3 separate regions of the Homo sapiens genome follow, and all the other regions are linked to region 3. Evidence: fine-mapped expression QTL. A gene starts in region 3. Each other region holds a variant in brackets. All regions are shown on one strand. Distances are from middle to middle. Region 1 overlaps CEP131 (centrosomal protein 131). Region 2 overlaps CEP131 (centrosomal protein 131). Region 3 holds the start of CEP131 (centrosomal protein 131).

The links.
Region 1: its variant is fine-mapped to the expression of CEP131 in sigmoid colon (GTEx, PIP 0.99).
Region 2: its variant is fine-mapped to the expression of CEP131 in whole blood (TOPMed, PIP above 0.99). The same link has a PIP of 0.9 or more in caudate, cerebellar hemisphere, cerebellum, cerebral cortex and putamen.

The regions. Positions count from the first base shown.
Region 1 is chr17:81,196,153-81,198,901 of GRCh38, reverse strand. CEP131 (centrosomal protein 131) reads left to right here. Exons shown (of 26, transcript NM_014984.4): 11 at 1-25; 12 at 605-787; 13 at 1,014-1,190; 14 at 1,847-1,972; 15 at 2,076-2,201. Among named protein-coding and RNA genes, the nearest start is that of CEP131, 25 kb to the left of the region's middle. The variant T/C (reference allele first, on the strand shown) is at 1,544.
Region 2 is chr17:81,188,685-81,191,433 of GRCh38, reverse strand. It overlaps CEP131 (centrosomal protein 131), which reads left to right. Exons shown (of 26, transcript NM_014984.4): 22 at 99-241; 23 at 350-527; 24 at 632-795; 25 at 1,459-1,519; 26 at 1,591-1,838. The coding sequence ends at 1,665. Among named protein-coding and RNA genes, the nearest start is that of AATK, 24 kb to the right of the region's middle. The variant C/T (reference allele first, on the strand shown) is at 1,585.
Region 3 is chr17:81,221,635-81,224,383 of GRCh38, reverse strand. It overlaps CEP131 (centrosomal protein 131), which reads left to right and starts at 1,419. Exons shown (of 26, transcript NM_014984.4): 1 at 1,419-1,615. RefSeq lists silencers at 827-1,196, 1,357-1,686 and enhancers at 1,048-1,717, 1,718-2,387, 2,388-2,749.

The sequences.
Region 1 (2,749 bases), 25 kb after region 3:
GCAGCCTCCAGAGGACAGGACGCAGGTCTGAGCACAGCTGTCCTTCACTCCATCATGGTTTTTGGCTTTAAGGGCCATGTCTGTGCCAGGGGTGTCCTGAGCTGAGCTTCTCCCAGCCCCTCCTCTGCTCTAGGGGCCACTTAAGCTCAGAGAGGCCACCCAGGAGGTGTCTTCTTGCTCTGATGCATGGTGCTGGCTGCCTCTTGGGGAGCCTTTGCTGGGGTGGATCCAGTTGGGTTTTTGCAGATGTCCTGGGGTGGGGGGCCTTGCATCCTCATCCACAAAAGAGGAGCTTCCGGCTCTGAGGGGTGACCTGACAGCCAAGGCTCCCAGGCTGCTCAATGGTGGGGCCAGGTGGCTGCACTCCTGTTTTCCTGGAGTGGGGCACTGGGAGGAGTCCCCTGGTGGCTGGAGCTGCTCTGGGTTTGAGCAGCTGCAGAGACCGGGTGGGAAGGTCTGAGCCCTGGCCTCACCTTCCTGGGGCTGAATGTCGGGACTGGGGAGCTCCCGCGGCGCCTTTGGGGCTCTGCGGTTGGCCTCCTATGTGGGGGCTGCTCTCAGCTACCAGCAGCCTTGCTGCATCTGTCTCCCTGCTCTTTTGCAGGACGTTCTTGCCCAGGATGCAGCTGGGGACAACCTGGAGATGATGGCCCCGAGCAGGGGGAGCGCCAAGTCCAGGGGGCCACTGGAGGAGCTGCTGCACACACTGCAGCTGCTGGAGAAGGAGCCGGACGTGCTGCCCCGCCCCAGGACCCATCACAGGGGCAGATACGCCTGGGCCAGCGAGGTGACCACGGTGTGCGCCCGCCCTGCACAGTCTGTCCACCCACGCCATTCACACAGAGCATGCGGTGGCTGTGGGGGTTGGGAAAATGGGGATGCCACAGGCTCCTCCTGGCTTTAGTCACAACCCTCCCTCCCAGAGCCCAGCCTCAGCTGCCACCTCTGCCTTTGGGGAACCCAAGTCCTCAGGCTGCCCTGACAGCCCCCGATGCTGGGCTCCTGTCCCACAGGAGGATGACGCCAGCTCTCTGACAGCTGACAACTTGGAGAAATTTGGAAAACTCAGTGCGTTCCCCGAACCTCCTGAGGATGGGACGCTGCTATCGGAGGCCAAGCTACAAAGCATCATGAGCTTCTTGGACGAGATGGAGAAGTCTGGGCAGGACCAGCTGGACTCCCAGCAGGAGGTGGCCCCTCACCAGCCCGCACCCGGCCCCCAGTGGGAGGAGGCCCCTCACGAGCCTGCACCTGGCCCTCGGGGGAGGAGGCCCCTCACCAGCCCGCACCTGGCCCCCAGGGGGAGGAGGTCTCTCGCCAGCCCCCACCCGGCCCCCAGCAGGAGGTGGTCCCTCACCATGTACCCACCTAGTTATGCAGCACCCCCCACGGGTCTCTCAGGGTGGAGGTGGCAGGGCCCGCATTCCCCATACTGCCCCCACCTACCCGCTGCCCCGAGCTGCCTCCACGAGCCCATATGTGTGGATAGTTCAGCCCTCTGGAGCCCTGCTGTCCTCTGGGTTGGTTTGTCCTGGGTGAACAC[T/C]AGCGGCCAGGCTAAATGGAGCAGTGACGTGAACTTTATTGTCACAGGGCAGGAAGCTGGGCAGCATAGAACTTTTTAAATGGTTTGTTTTTTATTCCTGAGGCCACGGCCCCCATTTCCTGTACTGAGCAATGAAAACGACCTCTGCTGGGCCGCCTGCCACCTGCCCTCCGGCTTCCCACGGGCTCCCGTGTGCAGCAGCCCCTCTGTCCCCAGAGGGCAGGGCCGCAGGGGCATCGTGTCAGGTCCTTGGCTGCCCCCCGTCCTCTGCCGCTTCCGCCTGACGCTCGGCTGTGTCTGCAGGGGTGGGTGCCGGAGGCGGGGCCGGGGCCCCTGGAGCTGGGGTCCGAGGTGAGCACGTCTGTGATGCGGCTGAAGCTGGAGGTGGAGGAGAAGAAGCAGGCCATGCTGCTGCTGCAGAGAGCGCTGGTAACGCTGCTGGCACTGCTAATCCCGGGCCCTGCTAGCCTCCTACCTGCTGAGGCCAGGCCCACCGGTCCTAGCGCTTCCCTCCTCTGCCCACACCCTGCAGGCGCAGCAGCGAGACCTCACGGCCCGGCGGGTCAAGGAGACAGAGAAGGCGCTGAGCCGGCAGCTGCAGCGGCAGAGGGAGCACTACGAGGCCACCATCCAGCGGCACTTGGCCTTCATTGACCAGGTGAGCGGCCCGGGGAGCGCAGAGGCCCGGACCCAGCGCGTGGCTCATGGAGACTTCCAGAGCCAGGGGCTTCCCACTGCCAGGGAGCTTCTTCCTCTGTTGGGTGTCACACGGGTGTCCGCTGGACGCATTCCAAGCCTTTCCCATGCCATTCCCAGCCATGCATGCCCTGGAGAGGGCACTCCTGTCTTTATCCAGAGCCGCCCCGTGTGAGTGTAGTGGGGTGTCCTGCCGGCCCCTCAGCTCAGTCGCAGCCCCGGTTGGCTCCTGTTCTGAAGAGAAGAGACCTAGAGTTGGTCTGGGGTGTGTGAGAATAGGGGCCTCCAGGGCTGCTTGATAGTTGTCACAGGTGTGTCCTGACCTGGGGTCTGGCCTGGGGCCGGCAGTGAGGCTGGTGTGGTCCTGACACCCTTTGGCAGACAGTGAGCCTCCTCCAGGGCTGGGTGATGGCCTCGGCAGAGCTACCCTCATCCCAGGAAGACCCTGACATCACTGCAGGGGGTGGGCTGGGGCTTCTCTGACATTCGCCGGGTCCCCCAGCTGAGGAC
Region 2 (2,749 bases), 33 kb after region 3:
GGCTCAGAGCCTGGAGCCCCCCAGGACCCCCTGAGGCTGGCCCTGGCCCCGCGGGCCGGCTCCGGGTGGCAACCCCCAGGCAGCGCATGTCCCCCCAGGAGGCGTGGCTGCTGAACCGGGAACAGGAGCTGAGGGAAGAAATCCGGAAAGGCCGGGACAAGGAGATTGAGCTGGTCATTCACCGGCTGGAGGCCGACATGGCGCTGGCCAAGGAGGAGAGTGAGAAGGCTGCCGAGAGCCGGTAAGGACCCGCCATGGCTGGGTCACCAGCTGGGGAGGCCCACGAGCTGAGGCGCAAGGACCCGTGTGTGACTGGGCTGGAGTGACCCTGCCCTCCCCCCACCTCCAGCATCAAGCGCTTACGGGACAAGTACGAGGCCGAGCTCTCCGAGCTGGAGCAGTCGGAGCGGAAGCTTCAGGAGCGGTGCTCGGAGCTGAAGGGCCAGCTTGGGGAGGCCGAGGGCGAGAATCTGCGTCTGCAGGGCCTTGTGCGGCAGAAGGAGCGGGCGCTGGAGGATGCGCAGGCGGTGAGTGGGCGGGTGTCAGGTGGGCAGTGGGCACCCACAGGCCCCTCCTGCATGCACGCAGCCAGTCGCTGGCAGCCGGCTCACTGCCTTCTGTGCCCACCCAGGTGAACGAGCAGCTTTCTAGCGAGCGCAGCAACCTGGCCCAGGTGATCCGCCAGGAGTTCGAGGACCGGCTGGCAGCCTCTGAGGAGGAGACGCGGCAGGCCAAGGCCGAGCTGGCCACGCTGCAGGCCCGCCAGCAGCTGGAGCTGGAGGAGGTGCACCGGAGGTGGGCGGCGGGGGCTGCAGGGCTGGAGACGGAGGCGGGGCAGGGGAGCGGGCAGGACCTCTGCAGCTCCAAGCCCCAGGAGGCTGTGGCTGAGGAAGGCCAGGAGATGCAGAGACAGGGCCCTGTAGACAGAGGCTGGTGTGGGTTCCATGTTTGGGGCCCAGGAGACCTAGATCTGTTTTCCTCCCTGGTGCTTAGTCTAGGGTGTCGGCCATCCCTGTTGGGGCACCCGAGTGGGTCGGGTCTGGGCCTGGCGAGTTCTCCAGGGAGTCAGCTCCCGGGGCCCTGGGCTGGGTGGACAGGCGCTGAAAGAGCTGGGGCACTGTAAGGTTCCCAGCGAGCTCCCTCCACGGGGGTCCTGCATCCTTCCTGTGCCATCTGCTGCCACAGGCTGAGAGGTGGGTGTGGGCGAGGTGTCCCACCCCATCTGGGTACCAGGCCTCCCCAGGTGTGGCCAGGGTCATACTCCAGTGGCCTGTGTTGGGTCCTGACTCACAGCAGGTGGGTTGCCTGGACAGCTGTCTGGGCCAGCCACAGGAGTCGTGGTCAGCAGGGCTGGGACCAGGCTGACCAGGCGGCTGCCCCGTGCACCCTGTGCACTGCAGGCCACTCTGGGGACATGGGGCGGGGGCCACACTGAAGCCTACCATGTACTACCCACAGGGTGAAGACAGCCCTCGCGAGGAAGGAGGAGGCCGTGAGCAGCCTCCGGACACAACATGAGGTGAGTCCCTGTGGCCAGCCCTGCTGGACCTCGGGGCTGGGAGCAGGCCTGACCCTGTGGGTGTG[C/T]TGCAGGCTGCGGTGAAGCGGGCCGACCACCTGGAGGAGCTGCTGGAGCAGCACAGGAGGCCCACGCCAAGTACCAAGTGACCAGGGATGCCGGGAACACTGTCGAAGAACGGAAGGCAGAGGACAGAGGCTGGACGTGGGCCCAGAGGCCCACAGGGACGCCCACCTGCCCCCCACAGAGGCTGGTGGTTGAGATGCCCACGGCTAAGCACCTGTGGCTGCATTTTAACAGTAAAGGAGGCCGTTGTTTTCAGCGCCTTGAGTGACTGCCTTGTCTTCTCTCCTGGGCTAGAGGCTGCCCAAGACCCCCAGAGCAGCCAGGCGTGGGTTTGGCTCTCTTCCTCCCACTCCCCTCCGCAGCCTGAGCAGGCTGACCAGGAAATCACGAAGCTTGGCCATCAGCCCCCCAGCTAGCAGCCCTCAACACTCAGCCAGCAGCCCCCAGCACTCAGCCAGCAGCCCCCCTGCACTCAGCCCTCAGCTCCCCAGCATTCAACCCAACCCCCAAGTTCCTGTTCCCTGCCTTGCCCTGGACCCTGGAAGTCCCAAGCACAGGGAATTCCCTACCCCGTTCCTGGCCAGGCGCAGGAGGAACTCAGCAGAACTCACCCCCTGGGAGGAGCTCCGAGGGCCCCGCCGTGGCCCTGCAGGTGCTGGAAGCCCATGGCTGCCAGCGTGCTCCTATGGCTGGAGAGACTCCAGAGGGACAGGAAGCCCTACCCTCCCCGCTGTCAAGGTGTGACAGTCTGGAGCTCTCAAGAAATGGGGATGGACAGGGCCCACCCATGAGGATGGGGGCACTGGGGAAGGTCCCAGGCAGGAGAGGGTACCACTGGCCCAGAGCATCTCTTCACACCCAGCCTGGTTCTCAGCCCAGGTCAGCTTGGCCTGGTCAGTTCAGAACCTGCCCCAAATCCTCAGGGGGGCAGCCCTCCCTCCACCTCCGTCTACACTGACCAGGAAGTGAGTGTTGGATGCCATCTCACTGGGATGGGAGGTCCAAAGCCGCGCCTGAACGCTTGGTGGCAGACAAGGGTCTCCAAGCAGGCCGCACTATCCTGGGACCGGGCTTTGGGGTCGCTCAGGCTGCCACACCACAGTGTCCCGGCGTCTGCACCGGGTAGACCCATCGCCCCCGAGCCTGTCTTCCTACCTGCAGCATGGC
Region 3 (2,749 bases):
GTAATTTTTTTGTATTTTTACTAGAGACGGGGTTTTGCCATGTTGGCCAGGGTGATCTCGAACTCCTGACCTCAGGTGATCCGCCCACCTCAGTGTCCCAAAGTTCTGGAATTACAGGTGGGACCCACTGCGCCCGGCCGGCAGTTTCTTATAAACAATCATTTGATCCAGCAACCCCACTCCTGGGTATTTACACAAGAGAAATGAAAAGTTGTGTCCACACAGAAGCCGATGAGTGAATGTTTATGGCAGCGTCATTCATAATTGCCAAGCACCAGGAACAATCTCTGCGTCCTTCATTTGATGAATAAAACCATCAATAAATAAAACCATCTGAACCGGTGGTTCACACCGGTTACAGGATACCACTCAGCAATAAAGAGGAACCAGCATGAATCTCAAAATGCGAAGTGGTAGAAGCCAGACCCACAGGCGCGCTGCGCGACATCCCTTTTGTGTGACATTCTGGAAAAGGCTGCCTCTAGGGATGGAGAACAGAGAGAACTGAGCAGCCGCCACCAGCAGTCAGCAGGTACGGGATCCGGAGGGAGAATGTTCTGTAACTAAAGTTACACAACTCCACTGCACACCAAAAAATGTGGATTTTACTGAAACCAAACTTTTTATTTTACAGAGCACTGGACTTTTTAAAAAGCGGGGGCAGGGGAGACCAGTGTGCTGTGACTTTTAGGGGAAGGATGGCTTCCCTGGAGAGGACCTGGGCGGAATCCCCAGGGCTCCCGGAGAGAGGGGGAGTCACAGAGCGGCTACGCACGGGGCGCAGCGTTAAAACTTTGGAGAAGGAAAAAAAACAACAAAGCAGCGCGAAGGGAAGGAGGTCAGGGAGGTTAGCAAGGCGCCCACACGCCCTCGCAGTCGTACTGAGTAACGAGGGGAGTCGCGCACGTGGGTGGGGACAGAGCGGCCTAGGACACTGGGGGAGCCCCGGGCCGCGGGAGTGCGGCGGCCTGGGGGTGTCGGGGAGCCGAGCCGAGGCCGCGTGCTCCTCGCGCCCTCCCTGGTGTCTCCTCCCCAGGCCCTGCGTGCCCCGCCCACACCTGCCTTGCCCCGCCCACATCTGCCTCGCCCTACTCGCCCATCACACCCCCACCTCACGCCCCGCCCACAACCGCTGGGGCCCCGCCCCTGCCCGGCCAGCTCCTCCCGCCGCCCTCGGTCCCCCGCCCCCTATATGACCCGCCCCTTTCCAGCCGCGTCCAATCGGCCGCTCTCTGTAGTCGCGTCCCTCAGCCATCCGCCGCTCCTCCCACGCTTGAACTTCCCGAAGGACAGCCGAGCGGCCCAATGAGCTCCCGGGACGGCCTGAGCGGGAGCGTGAAGGGCCAATCCGGAGTCGGCGCGCGCAGGAAAGGCGGGCCGGCGTGACGGGCTGGGGAGGTGGTGCCAGGCTGGTTGCTAGCTGCCGCCGCTGCTCACCCCGGCCGTCCGGCCGCTTCATTGTCACCGGGCCTCGGGGCAGTGTTGGGGGTGGCGGGGCGCCAGGTCGCCGACCCGAGGTTTGGGCGCGACTGGTTCCGCATCCCCTCCCCGCCGGCCGAATCTGCAGGCCCCGCGCGCCAGGCAGGCTTCGCGGCTGCGCCCCCGGCCCGCGCAGGTGAGGGGGGCCCGGGCAAGGGAGGGGGTTGCAGGGCGCACGGAGGTTGGAGGGGTCCGGAGCCCGCGCAGGTGGGAGGCCCTGGTCCAGTGATGAAGTGATGGGGATCCGGGGCACGCACAGGTGAGTGGGGGGATCTGGTGCCCGCGCAATTGAAGGCGGGATCCGGGGGAAGTGAGGGGGATCCAGGGTGCGCACAGGTGAGGGAGGTCCGGGGCCCGCGCAGGTGAAGACAGGCTCGTGCCTGAGGGTGTGGGTCCCCACCTCCATCCCCTCCACCCTCTCCACCTCCCTCCACTCCCCTCCGGTCCCCAGGACAACATGGAGTCCAGTCCCGGCATCTCTGGCCCGGCTGCCTTAAGCCCTGGGGAAAATGGGGAGATGGGAGCTGCCCTGAGGACAAGTGGAGGGCTCTGCTCTGCGCGTGGGCTCTGGCCTCTCTGTCCAGGGTCAGGGTCAGGGTCAGGGTCAGCCCACCCTGGGAACCAGGTCCTGGCGCTGGTCATCAGTCCCCGCCCCTTCAGGTCCTGGGAGGGACACAGTTTTATCCAAGATGTAGTGGCCTCCCAGGCCTCCCTTCTTCTGGCTTGGAGGTTTCCATGGAGAGGCCCCGTTCGCCATCCCAGAGCCGCTTGCAAGTGTGGCTGGGAGAGCAGAGTCCTGGGCTCCAAGGGCTTGCATGGGTCCAGCCAGGGGTGGACAGTGCCCTGCAGGAGGAGGGTGTTAAGTTTCTTCCGCACAGCCGGAAGTGCATAACTGAGGACTGGGACCTGGTCAGTGGCAGGGTCAGCCTCTAGGGAGTAGGGGTATCCATCGCTCCGTGGAAGGGACCTTGGGGGACCTGCTGTGGGGTGCCGGGCTGAAGGAAGCCCAGGGTGACCTTGGGCGATAGGCTGGGTGCCTGCTGGCCTACTGGAGGCCACCGTGGCAGGGAGGTAATTCTCGAGGTTGGTCCCTGGCGCCAGCTTCTCCCGTTCATCTACGGGTTCAGCTGAGTGCCTTTCCCTGCAGGTGCTGGGGTTGCTCAGGAGCCACACAATTCATAAACCAACTGTGTGCGGCCACAGGAAGGGAGTCCGAGCCGGATGGGGAGTGAAGAGTGATGGGTGCTCAAGGAAGGCCTCTGAGTGCAGG